Regions from separate parts of the Homo sapiens genome. Here region 1 is linked to region 2. Evidence: fine-mapped QTL for protein levels in blood plasma. Region 2 holds a variant in brackets. A gene starts in the other region. All regions are shown on their reverse strands.

Region 1 (9,224 bases), not on the chromosome of region 2:
GTGGGAGGGGAGGCGCTTCCAGATCTCCTGACACAAAGGGCTGCCCACCTCCCTGGTCCTTTACCCGAACCTTCAGGAGGCAGACGACACACACACTAGCCAGCCACTCTCTCCAAGGCAAGGGGAGGGGGACAAAAAGCAATTTTGAGATTTGTACAGTGCTTGCCAGGTCCTTCAAAAATGACTACCGGCCGCCCATGGCTCTTGCACAGCGGGTGGGAGGAAGAGTCCTTGTAATCCACCTCTCCCAAGGAACTCCTGCGCGAGGTTTCAGATTCCCCGCCTGCAGGCTATGGCTGACTTCCCCGTATCCTGTGTGACGTGGGATGTGTGGCTTCGCGCAGGTAAGGCTGGAATACAGGTGCCTGGAGGGACACCCAGAGCTGCCCAGGCACTTCCCGGCGGCTGCTTCCTTTGCACTTTGCACTTACAGGTGCACTTATAATAAAAACACCCTCCCTTCCACGCTCCCCTGGGCCCTCCCATCTCTCCTTCCTCTTCCACGCTCTCCTGGCTGTTGAATGTTTTCCACTGAAGGAGTCTAGTCTGTCCACCTAGGGGGCTCTCCCTCCCTCGGTCCAGGGCATTCGCGGCTCACAGGTCAGCTCGGGCAGAACCGCCCTGACCACCTATGAGCTCCTCGGGACACCACCCCAATGCCAGGGTGAATCGTCCTTACACCCTCAGTCCTGTCCGAGCGGCCTGATCCTACCTGTTTCCCAGAAACTGCTACGCGAAGCTTCCCCGCCGGGCTCATCCAGGGCGGAGGGGTCTGTCCCTGACGCAGACTGGGGGCGGGTCCGCAAAAGCGGGCTGAATGAATGAACGCAGCAGGGCTGGGGCCCCCTGGGGCTACAGGCCCCTGCTATTTGGCCCGCCCTGTGGCCCAAAACACTGGACTTGCCCCCCACCGGTCAGCGGAGCCCAGACATCCAGGGAGCCCTAATGGAGCCTGGACAGGAAGGCAGCAGGAGGTGGGACCCGGGGTGCGAGTGACCCCGAGGCCGTCCTCCGGAGCGCAGCGCGCCCGCGTGGGGGAGGCCCGCCTACAGTCGGTGATCCCCGGCCGCCCCCGCCAGCGCCCCGGCCCGCCGCTTACCATGCACCGCGCGCTCCGCCACACCCACGGAGACGAGTGCCCTTTTCCGGGGAGCAGGCGGCAGCCGGTCTTTTGGGCTCCCCCGCCCCGGCCGGCGCCACCCCGGCCTCCACCCGCGGGATACGACCCCACGATTCCCTAGGGCCTGGGCTCCGCCCCATGCACGTGGCGTCACAGGCTGGGCGGGGGGGCGCACCCAGCCGCGCATGCGCAGGCGGGAGAGGAGGTGGGGGTCGGGGGACCCAGTTGCGCAGGCGCGGGCGGAGTATGGGTGCTCAGCTGCGTAGGCGCGATGGCCTTCTTTTCTTTCTGCAGGTGGCCTTGCGGTTTTCTCCAGTCCACAGCCGGGCTGGCGTCGGCCCAGAGAGGGGGGCTCGGCAGTCTGGTTCCCCGAGCGTCTCATGGCGGGCCCTCGCCAGATTCAAGGGGTTCCCTTGGCCAGTTTCCTTACGGCGCGGCGGAGCTGGCCCTCGTCGTCCCTGGTAGGGGGCAGCCTCACAGCCTGGACCGGCCTGTGCAATTTCCCCCATCCCTCCACGTCTACATTTTATTTTTTTCTTTTTCTTTTTTTAGGACAATGCATGATGGAAATGCAGCCACATCATAGCAGGCAGGTTCATGAAATCTGCCCTCCTCCCACCGTTTCTTGACCCCATTTTCTTATTTTTTTTTTTAACAGGTTCTCACCCAGGCTGGAGTGCAGTGATGTGGTCTCAGCTCACTGCAACCTCTGCCTCCCGGGTTCAAGCGATTCTGTTGCCTCAGCTTCCTGAGTAGCTGGGATTACAGGTGTGCGCCACCACGCCTGGCTAATTTTTGTACCTTTAGTAGTGACGAGGTTTCGCCCTGTTGGTCAGGCTGGTCTCGAACTCCTGACCTAAGGTGATCCGCCTGCCTCGGCCTCCCAAAGTGCTGGGTCTATAGGCATAAGCCACCACACCCGGCCCTTGACCCCATTTTCTGTCTTCCTAGAAATCACCAAGGTTGCAACTCCTGACTGTCCTGGCTCACAGGCTCCAGCTTACTTAAGGACCCCACGGTGGGGGCTGCCCACTTGCACACCTATGCTAGGCGCCCTCATTCCCGCAAGGGCCAGAGCCCCTTCCCGGCCCATGGCGTCTGGCCAAGGAGGTGTGGGTGCGCCCCAGCCAGGCCTGGTCCTAGAGGACGGCCCCACCTGCGCACTGGGGCATCTGGGAGAGCTATTAGTGGAAGAAGCCCAGGTTCCTGAAGCACCAAGTGGGCAAGAGTTTATTTTCAGGATGGGACGCTTTTGAGGGTGAATAAGTGCTAGCTGTATGGGATGCGGGGACAGTACACAGGCCCGGCCTGGCAGCCGGGCAATGCGGTGCCTGTTGGAAGGTCGCCCACAAGCACCTGGTTGGACACTGCCACTGAGATTTGGTTATTACAGAGGTTAGCCTATGCGGGCCTTCACTGATGGACCTTGAAGTGTTTCCCAGTTGCTTTGGGTTAGGAATAATGTGACTGGATCCCGTGGATTGTCTTTGTGCATGCATGTGGGTATATCTGTCAGAAATATTCTTAGAGGTGGAATTGGCTATGGTGGGATATGTCCTTTAAAATAATATATTAGCCAAACGTGGCTAAATTGCCCCCCTTAGACACTGTACTAATTTACACTCTGGCAAATAATGTGTAAGACTGTGGGTTTCCACACATCTTCACCAGTGGGGTCTTTCCAAACTTTTGGATCTTTCCCAATCCAATAATGACAAAACTATATCTCATGGTTTTAATTTACACTTCCTAGTATTTTGAGATCCTGTCGTGAAGTGGTGATGGCCCTGTTTCTGCCTGCTGCACTTGGCAACATGTGTTATCACTTCCTTTCTTTTCACCACTTTTTACTCTTAGAGTTTCTAGAATTTGTGAAAGTAAAATCTTTTTGCTGGCATGGGCTTTTGTGTGTATTATACACTGCTTGGAAAGGTCTTGCACCACATCTTCCCTTCGTAGATTGTTTCTCAATGTTTAATACTCAGCTCAAATGTCACCTCCTCAGACCATTTTATCTAGAATGGCCTCCTCTAGTTATTCTCTGTCACCTTTTATGTTATTTCCTTCATAGCACTCATCACACTGTAACCACCCAACAGCTTCTTCTTGCCTGTCGCCCAGATAGAGCCAATTTTTCAAGATGGGAATTGCAATAAAGAGTTCGATACACATAGAGCTGGCTAACCAGGAGAGCAGAGGCTTATTACTCCTCAAATCAGCCTCTCCTCAAATTCGGAGTCTAAGGAATTTTTTGGGGGGGGTTTGTTTTTGAGACAGTGTCTTGCTTTGTTGTCCAGGCTGGAGTGCAGTGGTGCAGTCTAGGCTTACTGCAACCTCCACCTCCTGTTCAAGCGATTCTCATGCCTCAGCCTTACAAGTAGCTGGGATTACAAGCGCACACCACCATGCCCAGCTAATTATTTGTATTTTTAGTAGAGACGGGGTTTCACCGTGTTGGCCAGGCTGGTCTCGAACTCCTGCTCTCAAGTGATTTGCCCTCCTTGGCCTCCCAAAGTGCTGGGATTGTGCCAGTCTGGAGGCTAGGGTTTTTAAAAGATAGTTTAGCAGTCAGGGGGCTAGGGAATGGTGAGTGCTGATTGGTTGGGTTAGGGATGAAATCCTGAAGAGATGAAGCTTTCGTCTTGCTCTGGGTTAGTTCCTGGGTTGGGGTCACAAGACGAGATAGCCAGTTTACCAGTCTGGGTGGCTAGTCCATCACAATGTGGGGTCTGAAAAATACCTTGAACACCAATCTTATGTTATATAATAGTAATATTATCTATTGGAGCAATTATGGAGGTTAGGAATCTTGTGGCTTCGGGCTGCATGACTCCTAAGCCATAATTTTTTTTTTTTTTTTTTTTTGAGATGAAGTCTTGCTCTTGTCCCCCAGGCTGGAGTGCAATGGTGTGATCTCGGCTCGCTGCAACCTCTGCCTCCCGGGTTCAAGCAATTATCCTGCCTCAGCCTCCTGAGTAGCTGGGATTACAGGCACCTGCCACCACGCCCGGCTAATTTTTATATTTTTAGTAGAGACAGGGTTTCACCATGTTGGCCAGGCTGGTCTTGAACTACTGACCTCAGGTGATCTGCCCACCCTGGCCTCCCAAAGTGCTGGGATTACAGGTGTGAGCCATCGCGCCCGGCCCATAAATTTTAATCTTGTGGCTAATTTGTTAGTTTCACAAAGGTGGTCTGGTCCCCAAGCAAGAAGGAGGTTTGTTTCAGGGGGGGGCTGTTATATTTGGTTTAAAGTGAAATTATAAACTAAGTTTCTCCACAGATTTGTTTGGCCTATGCCCAGGAATGTGCAAAGGCAGATTGGAGGTTAGAAGATGGAGTCGGTTAGGCCAGCTTTCTTTCACTGTTGTAATTTTCCTATGTCATATTTTTCTTATTGTCATAATTTTTGCAAAGACACAACACCCGTCATTACTTGTTTGCTGACTTGTTTATTGGTAAATTCTTTGTTCCACTACTGAAATGAAGCTCCATGAGAACAAATAAGTTGGTCTGTCCTGCTCACTGCTGCATGTCTGGCACTCTGTCTAGAACATGGTAGGTGCCTGTAGCATACATTATTGGTGCTAATGTCCCTTGCCTGCCTCTGCCGTCAGCTCTCTGATTGTTGTGGAGAGTTCCCCTGAATGCTGCCACCTCAAGCATCTCGTTGCTGTCCTCTTTAGGGCTTATCTTACGACTTTCTCCGGAAGCCTTGGGAGCAGGCGCAGCCTGGAATTCAGGGAAATTTAACATCCCCGGGGCAACTGCAGGGCAGTTTGGGTGGCCTTGGACAGACCCAGTCCCCTTTTTACCATGTAGTTCTCAGGAATAACTGCAGAATGTGCTAGGATTGCAGCATCTTGAGATAAGGGAGAACTGGCTGAACAGCCCAAGGTCAGTTCCAGTCTCCTGCTGAAAATAGGATGTCCTTCAACACTGCCCAGCAAATCACATTACCCTGGGATGTTAAACCCAGGGCAGGCTGCTCTCTGGCATTCCTCGTCTGTGGTGCAAGTGGGGCATGCCCAGTTGAGACTCCATTTGCCCTGAGCAGATTTCCTGAGCCTCAGGCAACCAGCTTGCAATGAATGCTCCTCTTGTCCCTTGCTGCCTGTCTGTAAGTAATAAATTTGCTTCATATAACTTATTGAGTATGAATGCGTTCTCTCTCACTGGACACAGACATGTTGGTAACCAATGCACAGTGAACCTCCTTCACAGCAACCCTTAATTAACTGGGGATATATACCTCAGCCTTCTGTCCCCAGAGGACCAATTCTGAGTCCTCAGTAGAAGTGAGCCTCAGTGACCCTTAGTGGTGATCAGCTCAGTAATGCCCCCTTGGGTTGGTCCTCCGATCTTTCTCGGTTCTCTCTCTCTCTCTCTCTCCTGCTTCTGGGAATCACCTCCCAGGTCAACTACCTGCATCTAAGCTCTTGACTCAAACTGCCTTTGGGTAAACTCAAATGAAGTCAACATATAAAATATTTCTTGAAGAAATGGATGGATTGATGAGGGTGCTTCTAATGTTTTCACTTGTCAGCCAGAAGCAGCTCAGCCCTGCAGGCAGAAGGTGAAGGAAGCCAATTGGCACCCGCCCTAGGAATGCAGGAGCAGATAACTGAGACATGGGCTCCAGCAGAACATGTATGCAAGTGTTCTGACAGCAGGGGGGAGTGCCTGGCCCTGCTTTTTGGGGGTGAGAATGTTTTAGAAGAGGTTGGTGAGTTACCAAGCTGCCTCAATTTACCTAACTTGAGTAATAGTGGAGGAAGCCCTCTATTGTGTGTGGCTTGCTCACATGTGTCCACCTACTCACAAAAGTCCAGGAGGACAGCTGCAAAGCTGTCTGCTCAGTGAAGGAACAGAACATGGACTGTGCAGTGTCTCTGTAGCAGAGGCTGCCAGGCCTCCTGCCTGTGTCTGTCCCACTGTGTGCTCCCGTGACTCTCCACAGCAGGGCCTTCTTTTGGCAGAGGAAGTGCCAGGAGGTAATGCTTCTGAGAGCAGTTTCAGCCCATGTCAGGTGCAAAGACCCTGGCTCCCTTTCCACTCAGGACAACTCTCCGGCATGTCTACTTGGCATTGAACACAGTGGTCCAGAGCGGTAACCCACACTGGCTTTCCTCCCTTCCCTGTCTCACTGCCCCACTCCTCTACTGGTTTTTCCTGGTGTCACCTCCTAAATAAACTACTTGCACTCAAATCATTCTTTAGAATTTGTTTTGGAAGAATTCAACCTAAGATACCATCACTCATAGGTCATTTGTTAATAATATCAAACAAAACATCTTAGCCACTGCTCTGATTTCTTCCTTTGGTTCCCTGAAATCTATAACCACAAATCACTGCTTTCTCTACCAAATATTTTTCCTGTAACTCACCAAAAAAGTCAGATCTTCCCTGCTCATGGCTAGCCTTCCATTTTCCAAAATCTACTACAAACAAGAAAAAATGTGAGGGAAACCCTACTCTTCCCCAAGAGAACTTGGCATTTATGATTCCTGCCTGCCACATGGGCCATTGTGTGGTCTCTTTTAGCTTCCCGATGGATGATCCAACAGATGTCATCTTGCACTGTAGTGATAGTCTTGTTGGGACCACATGAAGTGCAGCTGTAAAACAGGTAATACTGTTCTTGGCAATTGGTCGACTGTCCTGGTAGGGGGAGACTGGTGTGAACAGATTGTCCCATTTAGAGTAGCTGTTAATGGACTGTCTTCTCTCCATGAGGGCCTTTAGCATTTTACATTGTATAGGTTGTCGTCTACCAGATTAAGAAAATGTTCTTCTATTTCTAGTTTAAGAGTTTTAAAAAATCATTAATGAATGTTCAGTTTTATTTTGTGCATTTCCTTCATCTATACATGATATTATTATTTTTCTCCACTAATTTTCTTTTTTGTTTGAGATGGAGTTTCGCTCTGTCACCCAGGCTGGAGTGCAGTGGCATGATCTTGGCTCACTGCAACCTCCACCTCCCTGGTTCAAGCAATTCCCCTGCCTCAGCCTCCCAAGTAGCTGGGATTACAGGCACACGCTGGCATGCCCAGCTAATTCTTTTGTATTTTTAGTAGAGACGGGGTTTCACCATGTTGGCCAGACTGGTCTCGAACTCCTGACCTCAGGCAATCCACCTGCCTCAACCTTCCAAAGTGCTGGGATTACAGGCGTGAGCCACCGCGCCGGCCCACTAATTTGTTAATATGATAAGTTCTAACGTTGAATCATTCCCGCATTCCCAAATAAGCATACTTTTAAAATACATTGCTGGATTTGACTTGCTAACATTGTGTTTAGGTTCTTTGCTCCTACATTCACAAAAAGATTGGCTTCTAATGTTCTTTCTAATATAGTACTTGTTTAGAAACTATCAAGATTAAATTAGCCTTACAGAATGAGTTGGAGATTTTCTGCCTTTAAATCTTCTAAATGGGTTTAAGTTTTGAAGTTTCTATTTCTTGAATATTTGATGGAATATTTCTGTTTTCTGTGTGAAATATTTTAAACTGCTGATTCTATTTCTAATCAAGCTTTCTACTTCTTTCGCAGGCAGTTTTGGCATCTTTCTAAAGGAATCATCACATTTCACCTAAGTTTTCAGTGTTACTGGTATAACATTATTCACATCTTCTTAGCATTTGCAGCGATAGCCTCCATTTCACTCATAATAATTAATTTGTAAATTTTCCTTTTTTTCTTGGTCAGCATCTCCAGAAATGCCTAAGTTTTATTACTTCTCTTCCCCAAGAGCTAACTTTTGGCTTTGTGGAACTCCTCTGTATCTTTGTTTAATATTTTTAAATTTATTTCATCTTTATTATTTCTTTCTTTGTACTTAGAGTGTGTTGTTTTTTAAAATTTTCTAGTTTAAGCTGAACACATATTAATTTTTAGCCTATCTTCTTTTTTTAAATTAAAGACTAAAACTTTATTATTCTTATTTAAAATAAATGAAGCAAAAGAAGTTACAAGAGAACTTATGTCTAACCAAGAGGCAGGTGGGTGAGTGGGAAGGGAGGCTGTTCTCTGCTCACTGCAATGCTGCACATCATGGTGGAGAGTAGGTCATGCTGTGAGAAACAAACTCACTGGTCCAAACCCAAAGTTTGGGCTCAGAGACCCAGAGAACAGTGGAAGCGAGACTTTAATGACAATCTTGCAAGATCGGGTGTCTGATGGGCAGGCACACCCAGTACAGTTTCAAAAGCAATTTATCCCCTAGTGTGCAGGTCCCTCCCTTGGTTCCTCATAGGCTGAGTACTATGGGGTCACAGTCTTCCTGGACATTGCCTATTGGTTGTTGGGTAGGGGTTTTAGGCATTTTCTTTAGGATTGTTCTGCTGCATTTTGTTGCAGCCATAATACATTGCAATCCTAGTTAGCTCAAGGGCTCTTCAAGTACTTGACTTATGACCTAAGTATCTGGGCAGGCTGATAAGAACAGACAAAGTGAGCTATTTTGCAAGCTAGTAAACTTTCATCTTAGACTAAACTCCTTTGGTTTGGGTGAGGGCAACTAAGGCAGTGGGGTAGGGTGGAGGGTGGGGAGGCGACAAGCAGGCATTGGCTATCCAAGCAGGGGCCTAGTGTATCCTGTTTCTTCTGTAGTTTGCTGACCTAAACCAATTCAAGGCACTTTGTCTTGGAAATGGACCACTGTATATATTATTTCCTTCATGCTCAGTACAGATAGCTCTCTCAGGGTTATTGTTAACATTCAAGGGGTGATAAAACAAATGCTTCCTGCAGCCAATTCCATTATCTAAGAATCCAAGTCAAATTTTGTTTTGTTTTGTTGAGAAAGGGCATTGCAAAGGTTCAAAAAAATGAAGTCCAAATAGCACTGTATCATCAAGCATTTGCCTTTTTAAAGAATGTATGTATATTTTACAGCCCAGCACCTCACGCTCAGGAAGGGTGTTTCTGAAGACTGATAAAGCCCCTTCAGTGAATGGCGCCAGGGCACAGCTGTCCACGACAAAGTGAGGGTTAGTAACTGCAGCGAGGAAGCCACATCAGAGGCCTCCTGCCTTCAGCATGGGATAGACAGGATTGCGGAGAAGGGAGGAGTTCAGGTGAAGTTTAAAATGAAGCCGTT
Region 2 (9,288 bases):
AGTGTGGACTAAGTGATTTGCTTCTGAAGACTTGAGTATGGAAAGAGAAAAAAAGATCTTTGCAGGAGAAATATGGTAGACACCAATTTAACAAGCTGATTAAAGTTAACATTGAAACCACCATTGCAAAATTATAACTGAGCTGACCTAACCAACTCCATTTTGCTTCCAACCTCCGAACTGTCCTTGTTCATTCCTGGGCATAGGCTGAACTACCTTTGGGAGGAACTTACTTATAGTTATGGTTTAAAACAAAGATAAGCCAGGCATGGTGGCTCACGCCTATAATCCTAGCACTTTGGGAGGCCAAGGCAGGCGGATCACCTGAGGTCAGGAGTTTGAGACCAGCCTGACCAACATGGCAAAACCCTGTCTCTACTAAAAATACAAAAATTAGTCAGGCATGGTGATGGATGCCTGTAATCCCAACTACTCAGGAGGCTGAGGCAGAAGAATTGCTTGAACCCGGGAGGTGGAGGTTGCAGTGAGCTGAGATTGTGCCATTGCACTCCAGCCTGGGTGACAGAGAGAGACTCTGTCTCAAAACAAACAAACAAACAAAAAACAAAACAATCACAAAAAAAAACAAAGATGATAACAATGATAACAGCCCTTTCCCAAAACAAACCCCCTTCTTGCCTGGGGACTAGACTGCCTTTGTAGGACTAACAAATTAGCCACAAGATTAGAAATTATGGTTTAGGAATCATGCAGCTGGAGGCTCCAAGATTCTGACCCTACCTACACTGTTCCTAATGAAGCAGGATATTTCCCTGACCCCTTCACGGGACTTGCAACAGGGGTGCCTTGTTTACTTAGCCCACCACTCTCAACTCCTTGCAGGAGGAAGCACGCAAGCAAGCAAGGCAGGAATTGGAGTGCACAAGCGCTGGAATTGGCTGGCTGCTTCAGCACCAGTGGGATCAAACTCCACTCACGCAGGCCCATTGTGTTCCACCCCTTGCGGGAGGGAGCACACAGGTGAATGGGTGCAGGAGCCAGAGTGAGTGCTTTTGGGCACCAGCAGCAGTGAAGTTTGTGCAGGCCCCTCAGCAGTGTCCAGGCAGAGGTACCTGCAACTTCCAAAGCCCCAGGGGGCGTGTTACAGTGCTCTTTTAGCTCTGCCATCCATCAGCAACTTTGTTAACAGCTCAGTGGGCCCGCTGCCCTTTCGTGTAGGCAGCTGCCCTCTGCCAGCAAAGGCTAAGGGCCAATAGACAGCCTTTTGAATCCGCACTTGTGGCTCCTGAGCTCTTGTCCAGAGTCCAGGAGAAACGAGGTCACATAAACGAATTGAAGGATGGTCATGCAGGGGATTTTATGACGGATTAAAGTGGCTTATAGCGGGAAGGGGAGCTGAAAAAAAAGATAGAGTGGGTAGGTAATCTTCCCCTGAAGTCAGCTGTCTCTGGCCGGATTGTTCTCTGAAGTTATGCCATCAAACTGTCCCTCTGAAGTCAAGTCACTTCTCTCCAACGTCCAGCCATAGTCCCCAGTGTCCAGCTGCTTCTCCTTTCTGAAGGTGAGTCTGGGGTATTTATAGGCACAGGCTAGGGTAGGGCGGGGTCATAGGTGATTCAGGAAAAGGCAACATTCAAGCGGGAAAACGGGGATATGAGTTCTGACTTTGAGCCGTGGTCTCAGGCTTTTCAGCTTGAGGGTGGGGCTTCACCAGAGACCTGCCCCTGTCTGCCTAGAATTTCTCTGCCTCCTGCCTCTTTCATTGTATCACTAAGATCAGTGCTTGAGATATTTTGCAGACCCTGCACTTGATGGATCAGCTGGAACCACCCTAGATGGATAAATTGGCTCATCTGATCTCGCGGCCCCCATCCAGGAACTGACTCAGCACAAGATGACAATTTCAACTTCCCGTGATTTTATCTCTGACCCAACCAATCAGCACTCTTGACTCACTGACCTTCCCCACTCACCAAATTATTCTTAAAAACTCTGATCCCTTGCCAGGCGCAGAGGCTCATGCCTGTAATCCCAGCACTTTGGGAGGCCAAGGCGGGTGGATCACAAGGTCAGGAACTCTAGACCAGCCTGACCAACATGGTGAAACCCCGTCTCTATTAAAAATACAAAAATTAGCTGGGTGTGGTGGCAGGCACCTGTAATCCCAGCTACTTGGGAGGCTGAGGCAGGAGAATCGCTTCAACCGGGGAGGCGGAGGTTGGAGGAAGCTGAGATCGCACCATTGCACTCTAGCCTGGGCAATAAGAGCGAAACTCTGTCTCAAAAAAAAGAAAAAAACCAACAAACAACTCTGATCCCTGAATGCTCAGGGAGACTGATCTGAGTAATAATACAACTCCATCTCCCACACAGCTGGCTCTGCATGAATTACTCTTTCTCTATTGCAATTCCCCTGTCTTGATAAATTGGCTCTGTCTAGGCAGTGGACAAGGCAAACCCATTGGGCGGTTACAAATTTGGGGCTCGTCTGGGATTGCCCTGTAATTACCTGCCTGTGGTTCAGTAGCCCCCCTCCAGCAATGGATCCAGAGGCCAGCCCAAGCAGCCACCTAGTTCTCTTGGACTGGGGGCTGACTCTGGTACTCTCTACTGGTGGGACACGGTTGACCCAAAGAGATGAATTTGGCAGGGTGTCTGTTTGTAGCTCCATCATAGGTTGTCTGTTTTGTTTGGCTCCTGGGAGGTCTCACTTGGCTCTCCCTAACTAATAGGAAGATTCCTGATTCTGGAGACTTCTCCTTGATGAGGAAGATTTCAGGGAGATTTCTCAGATGGAGAATAGGATAGTTTGGAAGGGATACTCTTGGAATTCTTGGTTAGGGATCTGATTTGGAAGGCCTTCTGTCTGTCATATCTTTGTGTGTGTTTGTATATGTGGAAGGGATCTCAGAAGGAATTGCTGATGGAAGTCCAGCATGCCTAACTCAGAGAACCCTTCTTATTTGTCCGGTGACATTTGGTGAGCCCTGAAGAAAGTTCAATAGGCCTGTCTCGGGGTGTAATTCTCATAATGTGTGTGTGTGTGTGTGTGTGTGTGTGTGTGTGTGTGTGTGTGTGTGTCACACAGGGTCTCACTCTGTCACCCAGGCTGGAGTGCAGTGGCATGATCTCAGCTAACAACAACCCCTGCTGCCTGGGTTTAAGCAATCCTCAGCCTCTCGAGTAGCTGAAGCTACAGGCATGTGCCACCACACCTGGCTAATTTTTGTATTTTTATTAGAGATGGGGTTTCGTCATGCTAGTCAGGCTGGTCTTCAACTCCTGACCTCAGGGTTTTGCCATGTTAGCCAGGCTGTTCTCGAACTCCCAACCTCAAGTCATCTGCCCACCTCAGCTTCCCAAAGTGCTAGGATTACAGACATGAGCCACTGCGCCTGGCTAATTCTCACAATTTGGAAGGCTAAGGTGGGAGCATCACTGGAGCTCAGAAGTTCAAGCCCATCCTGGGCAACATAGGGAGACCCCTGTATCTACAAAAAAATTTAAAAATTTAGCCAAGTGTAATAGCTGGACCTGAGGTAGGAGGATTGCTTGAACCCAGGGGGATGAAGCTGCAGTTAGCCATGATCTCGCCAACTGCACTGCAGCCTGGGCAACAGAGTAAGACCTTGTCTCAAAAACCAAAAATACAATCTCATATAATTTCACACTTCATTAGTGTCTTAGTTTGGGCAGCTATAACAAATTACCATAGATAGAGTGGCTCCAATTACAATCATATATTTCTCACAGTTGTGGATGCTGGGAAGTCCAAGATCAAGGTGCTTGCAGATCCCATGTCTGGTGAACCCCAGCTTCCTGATTTGCATCATCTTGCTGTGTCCTCCCAGGGTGGAGAGTATAAAGAGAGAGGAAGCCAGCACATTTCATGACTTCTAATAAGGGCATCAATCCCATCATGAGGGCTCCACCCTTATGATCTAATTACCTCCCAAAGCCTCCACATTCTATTAGCATCCCATTGTGGTTTTCTTTTTCTCTTTTCTTTTTTTTTTTTTCTTTTTTCTTTCTTTTTTTTTTTTTTTTTGAGATGGAGTCTTTCTCTGTCACCCAGGCTGGAGTGCAATGGAGTGATCTCAGCTCATTGCAATCTCTGCCTCCTGGGTTCAAGCAATTCTCCTGCCTCAGCCTCCCAAGTAACTGAGACTGCAGGTGCATGCCACGAAGCCCAGCTAATTTTTGTGTTTTTAGTATAGATGGGGTTTCACTATGTTGGCCAGGCTGGTCTCAAACTCCTGACATCAAGTGATCCACCTGCCT[C/T]GGCCTCCCAAAGTGCTGGGATTACAGGCATGAGCCACTGCAACTGACCCTGTTGGGGTTTAAGCTTTCAACAAATGACTTTGAAGGGGACACAAATATGTAGCTCATAACACTGAGTCACCTTATTGATACAGAATGCCTGGGGTCCCAGCTAAACCCACTCTAAGCCTGGCCCTAAGTGAAAACAGCTGACTCCATTTTTCCACCCAAACGCTGCCTTTTTGGTCTGCCCTGCCCCTATGCTGTGCCCACAAAGAACATCAGCCGGCAAAGCAAAAAAAAAAAAAAAAAAAAAAAAATAGCTAAGCGTGGGGGATACAAGCGGCTGAATGGCAAGCAGAGAAGCAGCAACTGAGCATTGGAAACTACGGATAGACACAGCTAACTTCAGATGGTGCGGCTTCAAGGAAAGATCCCTTCTTCCCACACCATCCCCTTTCCAACTCCCATCCCACTGAGAGCCACATCCATCACCCAATAAAATCCTCTGCATACACTACCCTTCAATCTATTCATGTGACCTGATTCTTCCTGGATGCCGAACAAGAACCTGGGTTCTTGAACACTGCACAGAGCCTGCTCCCACCAGAGAGGAGTGACTGGGTGGTTCCAGCATTCATTCCCTCCGGTTCCCACATTCACTTGCTCACATGCTACCTCTCGTGAGGAGTGGCCAGCGGTGGGCTGAGTAAAAAGAGCCATTCCTGTTCCCACTCATGACGGGGGTCAAGGTCAAGGGAACAATCCCATTTCACTATGACAACCATACTCCTTTTTTTTTTTTTTTTTTGAGATGGAGTCTGGCTCTGTCGCCCAGGCTGGAGTGCAATGGTGTGATCTCGGCTCACTGCAACCTCTGCCTCCTGGGTTCAAGCGATTATGCCGCCTCAGCCTCCTGAGTAGCTGGGATTACAGTCATATGCCACCATGCCTGGCTAATTTTTGTATTTTTAGTAGAGACCGAGTTTCACCATGTTGGTCAGGCTGGTCTGAAACTCCTGACCTGGTGATTCGACCATCTCGGCCTCCCAAAATGCTGGGATTACAGGCATGAGCCACTGTGCCCGGTCTGACAACCATACTACTTTTCTAAGTTGTATTGTAGAAGCAGAAAACATATGTCGAGGCAGAAATGATGAGATGTTCACCTGGGATAAGAGATTTATGCTACTTTTCTACTGTGTAGTTCTTGCTGGGAAGAGGCTTCTCAGGCAGGGACTTCATTTCCTAGGCCTCTGAGAAAAGAAAAATAACTCAGAGCACCCTGTGGTATGGGAAGTATGTAAAATTCAGCAGGCCAGAAAGACATGAGTAGAGGACTTCAGCCATGCCCTGCCATGCCCATGCCTGAGGACAATTGTTTAAAGATATTTTGTTCCTGACTAGCTGCCTTACCCATTATCATTGAATTCCTGGAATTTGTGATGCAAAGAACAATGTACGGCCAATCAATAGCTTATGTTATTTGAATATAAATTCTTGGGAAGCAAGTTAGGAATTACCTTTTCTTTTTCTTAAAAACCTACTTGGCTGGGGGCTGGGGGGTAGTTTTGGGATGAGACAAGCACATTAGTTATTGTGTACTTTATTTCTATTATTATTATATTGTAATATATAATAAAATGATTATATAACTCACCATAATGTAAAATCAGTGGGAACCCTGAGCTTGGTCACCTGCAACTAGACAGTCCCATCTGGAGGCGATGGGAGATAGTGACAGATCATCAGACATTAGATTCTCATAAGGAGCCCACAACCTAGATCCCTGGTATGCACAGTTCACAATAGGGTTCATGCTCCTATGAGAATCTAATGCTGCCACTGATCTGACAGGAGGCGTGGCTCAGGTGGTAATATGAGCAATGGGGAGTGGCTGTAAATGCAGATGAAGCTTTGCTTGCTCACCTGCTGCTCACCTCCTGCTGTGCAGCCTGGTTCCTAATGGGCCACAGGTGGTACTGGTCCATGGTTCAGGGGTTGGGGACCCCAATGTATAGTATTATTCTTACTTTGTAAAATAAAATGCATGTGTATTAATTTATGAAAAATAAGCATGAAGAATGAATCTGTAAAATGATATACCAAATTATTAGCAATGTCATCTGGAACCATATGATTCTCCTTTTATTTTCATTTATAAAAATATCTGTATGTCTAATTTTTTTACACTGGATATATAGCATGTGTTCAATAAAGAAATAGGAAGGAAGAAAGGGGGGGAGGGAGGGAAGGAGGGAGGGAGGGAGGGAGGGAATGCATTCACACCCACACCTTTATATATATATATTTTTTTTTTTTAAATAGAGACAGCATCTCACTGTGTTTCTCAGGCTGGCCTTGACCTTATGAGCTCAAGCAATCCTCTTACCTTGTCCTCTCAAACTTGTGGGATTATGGGTGTGAACCACCACAGCCCGCCCACATCTTTATATCTTTTGAAAAAAATCAAGATACTGTATTTTTACATTGCAAGATCATAGGGATCATTACACCCAAGTAGATGTTACATCCTCCATCCAAGAGTCCTTTGAAACACTTAAGTTTATTTGAGTGAGAGTGCATAACCATTGCTCTGAACAAAAGGGGCACACATACTAGTGTGTACTCTCTCTTTAAAAAGCACCATGAATATTACAACATCTACTCTCCCTTTTGTGATCAGGAAGAAACTTAAAACGAGCTCTTGTGGGTAGGGACCAGGTAGAATCTCTTCCTTCTATTCCTGCTTCTGGCATTGAGCATTGTTACAATGGGGATGTCAAGACTGGGACTAGCCAGTGCAGTGTCAGTGGTCACCATGTGAATGGCTCACCCTGTGTGTGTGCATGTGCATGTGTGTCTCTGTGATTGAGTGCACATATGCGCCTGCACATGTCTTTTTCATGGCAGAGGCCCCTCACCTGTGAATGGATTCTAGGCCCTGTTCGCTGGTGTGGAGGGAAGCACTCCTTTATAGAAACTGGGGACACTTCAACATGTTCTCAGTGAGTTTTGGATAAGACAGAGATTACACAGCGAGCTGGAGACTTTTCTGAGCTATACTTACTTATATATAACTAACCTCCAAAGATACACTGTTCATTTCTTTGTGGATCATTCATCTGGCAAGCTTCTGTTCTTTCTTCACGTTATTCTCCTAGAATGTAAGCTTCATGCAGGTAGGAATATCTTTCTCCTTTATTCACTACTGTATACCCAGGCTTGGAGCTGGGCTTGACATAGGCACTTAATAAATGCTTGTGGATTGTATTCTCCTCAGCAATGGCCTTCTTCAGGAAGCCCTTCCTAACAGCCCCAAAGTGTGACCTCTGTGTCACTTCTCTGTATCCTCAGGCTCTTTATATTACAGATTTCACAATGTTAACTTGTCAACCTAGTGGATAGACTCTAGACTCTAAATGTTGTGAGCAGGAATTGAATCTTACATATTTCTATTTCCAGTGCCAAGCACCAGCACAAAATAAGTGGTTAATACATGTTTATTGAAAACATGTGTACAGATAGATGCATGCTTGATAGTAGTTTGACACTATTACCTATAGAATCTGATGCTATACATTTGTACATACCAGCAGCATAGTAGCACCTCATAAAAGGTACTGTAAACCCTGTGAGTACAGACATCAGAAGGAAGAAGCAAAGGTTTAAAATTTTTCATTACTCAAAGGGAGAGAGCACCAGTGCCCTTTGTGGGAATGACACTTGACTGTTTTAAGGATAATCTGATTATTACAAGTTATTACAAGTTTGGGCAATGGCATTAAATACATCTTAAGTTTCATATTTTTTGGCAGATGCTTTCATGCTACCAGAGATGAAGAAAAAAAGCACATTTGAGAAATTTGGGAATTTCCATTATGACAATGTGAGAAATTCTTGTAAGTTTTAAGAGGTCAGGTTTTTTTTCTCCCTTCCCCTTATGAATAGTTTCTAAATTACCTCATGAATATAGGAACTCATATGATCTGACTTTCTCAGTTTAGCTAATCATAAATCTCTATTTACTTCAACAATTCTACATAGGGTATTCCTACAAGGTGCAGTTCATGTTTTAGTTGTCATTATCTGCAGACAAACTGAGTATGATACTCCCATTCACAAAGATCTCATTGATTTATCTCTCCACACAGTGAATACATTACAAAAGGAGGAAAAGATTTTGTCAGGTTTTTTTGTTTGTTTTTTTGTTTGTTTGTTTGTTTTTTGATACAGAGTCTCCTTCTGTTGTCCAGGTTGGAGTGCAGTGGCGTGATCTTGGCTCACTGCAAACTCTGCCTCCCAGGTTCAAGCGATTCTCCCCCTTCAGCTTCCCGAGTAGCTGGGACTATAGGCGCCCACCACCATGCCTGGCTAATTTTTGTATTTTCAGTAGAATCGGGGTTTCTCTGTGTTGCCTGGGCTGGTCTCAAAATCCTGACCTCAGATGATCCACCCGCCTCGGCCTCCCAAAGTGCTGCAATTACAGGCATGAGCCACCACTCCTGGCCACAGTTGTTTTTCTTTTTATATCTGATATGAATTGGACAAGAATTGAAAGTGGCTATGATAATGACAAAAAGTTCAGAAGGTAATTGTTTGCTTCCCTGCTCAAGGACAAAGAGAGGAGGATTCTTTTGAGAGAGGGGTTTCTTTCATAATTCTTTTACTTAAAAATTAATATCTTGCTGGGCACAGTGGCTCATGCCTGTAATCCCAGCACTTTGGGAGACCAAGGCAGGAGGATCACTTGAGGTTAGGAGTTTGAGACCAGCCTGGCCAAAATGGTGAAACCCCATCTCTACTAAAAATACAAAAATAAGTCGGGCGTGGTGGCATGCACCTGCAGTCCCAGCTACTCAGGAGGCTGAGGGAAAAGAATCACTTGAACCCTGGAGGCAGAGGTTGCGGTGAGCCCAGATCAAGCCACTGCACTCCAGCCTGGGAGACAGAAAGAGACTTTGTCTCAAAAAATATGTAATAATAATAATATTAATTAATGTCTTATTCAGAAACCACTATCCAGGATCCATGATTAATTCATTCAAAAGTTGATTGAGGATGTAC

Direction of the effects. Positions count from the first base shown, and alleles are read on the strand shown. Strength reflects both the effect of a copy and how common the allele is.
As copies of C replace T in region 2, the plasma level of the protein whose gene starts at base 1,255 in region 1 goes down (weak association).

What was found. PIP is the chance, under the fine-mapping model, that this variant and not a neighbour inherited with it causes the effect. The UK Biobank Pharma Proteomics Project read protein levels with antibody pairs (Olink). The fine-mapping took linkage between variants from a reference panel, not from the people measured, so its PIPs are less certain.
Region 1: it holds the start of ENTPD6, and the variant in region 2 is fine-mapped to the plasma level of the ENTPD6 protein (UK Biobank, PIP above 0.99).

Annotation. Positions count from the first base shown.
Region 1 is chr20:25,187,743-25,196,966 of GRCh38, reverse strand. It overlaps ENTPD6 (ectonucleoside triphosphate diphosphohydrolase 6), which reads right to left and starts at 1,255. Exons shown (of 15, transcript NM_001247.5): 1 at 1,100-1,255. LOC101926889 (a long non-coding RNA gene) reads left to right here and starts at 75. Exons shown (of 6, transcript NR_109994.1): 1 at 75-344; 2 at 6,665-6,749; 3 at 9,020-9,114. RefSeq lists enhancers at 110-259, 640-709, 1,560-1,799 and a silencer at 1,000-1,419.
Region 2 is chr12:101,858,713-101,868,000 of GRCh38, reverse strand. No RefSeq gene overlaps it. Among named protein-coding and RNA genes, the nearest start is that of DRAM1, 14 kb to the left of the region's middle. RefSeq lists an enhancer at 8,003-8,172. The variant C/T (reference allele first, on the strand shown) is at 4,243.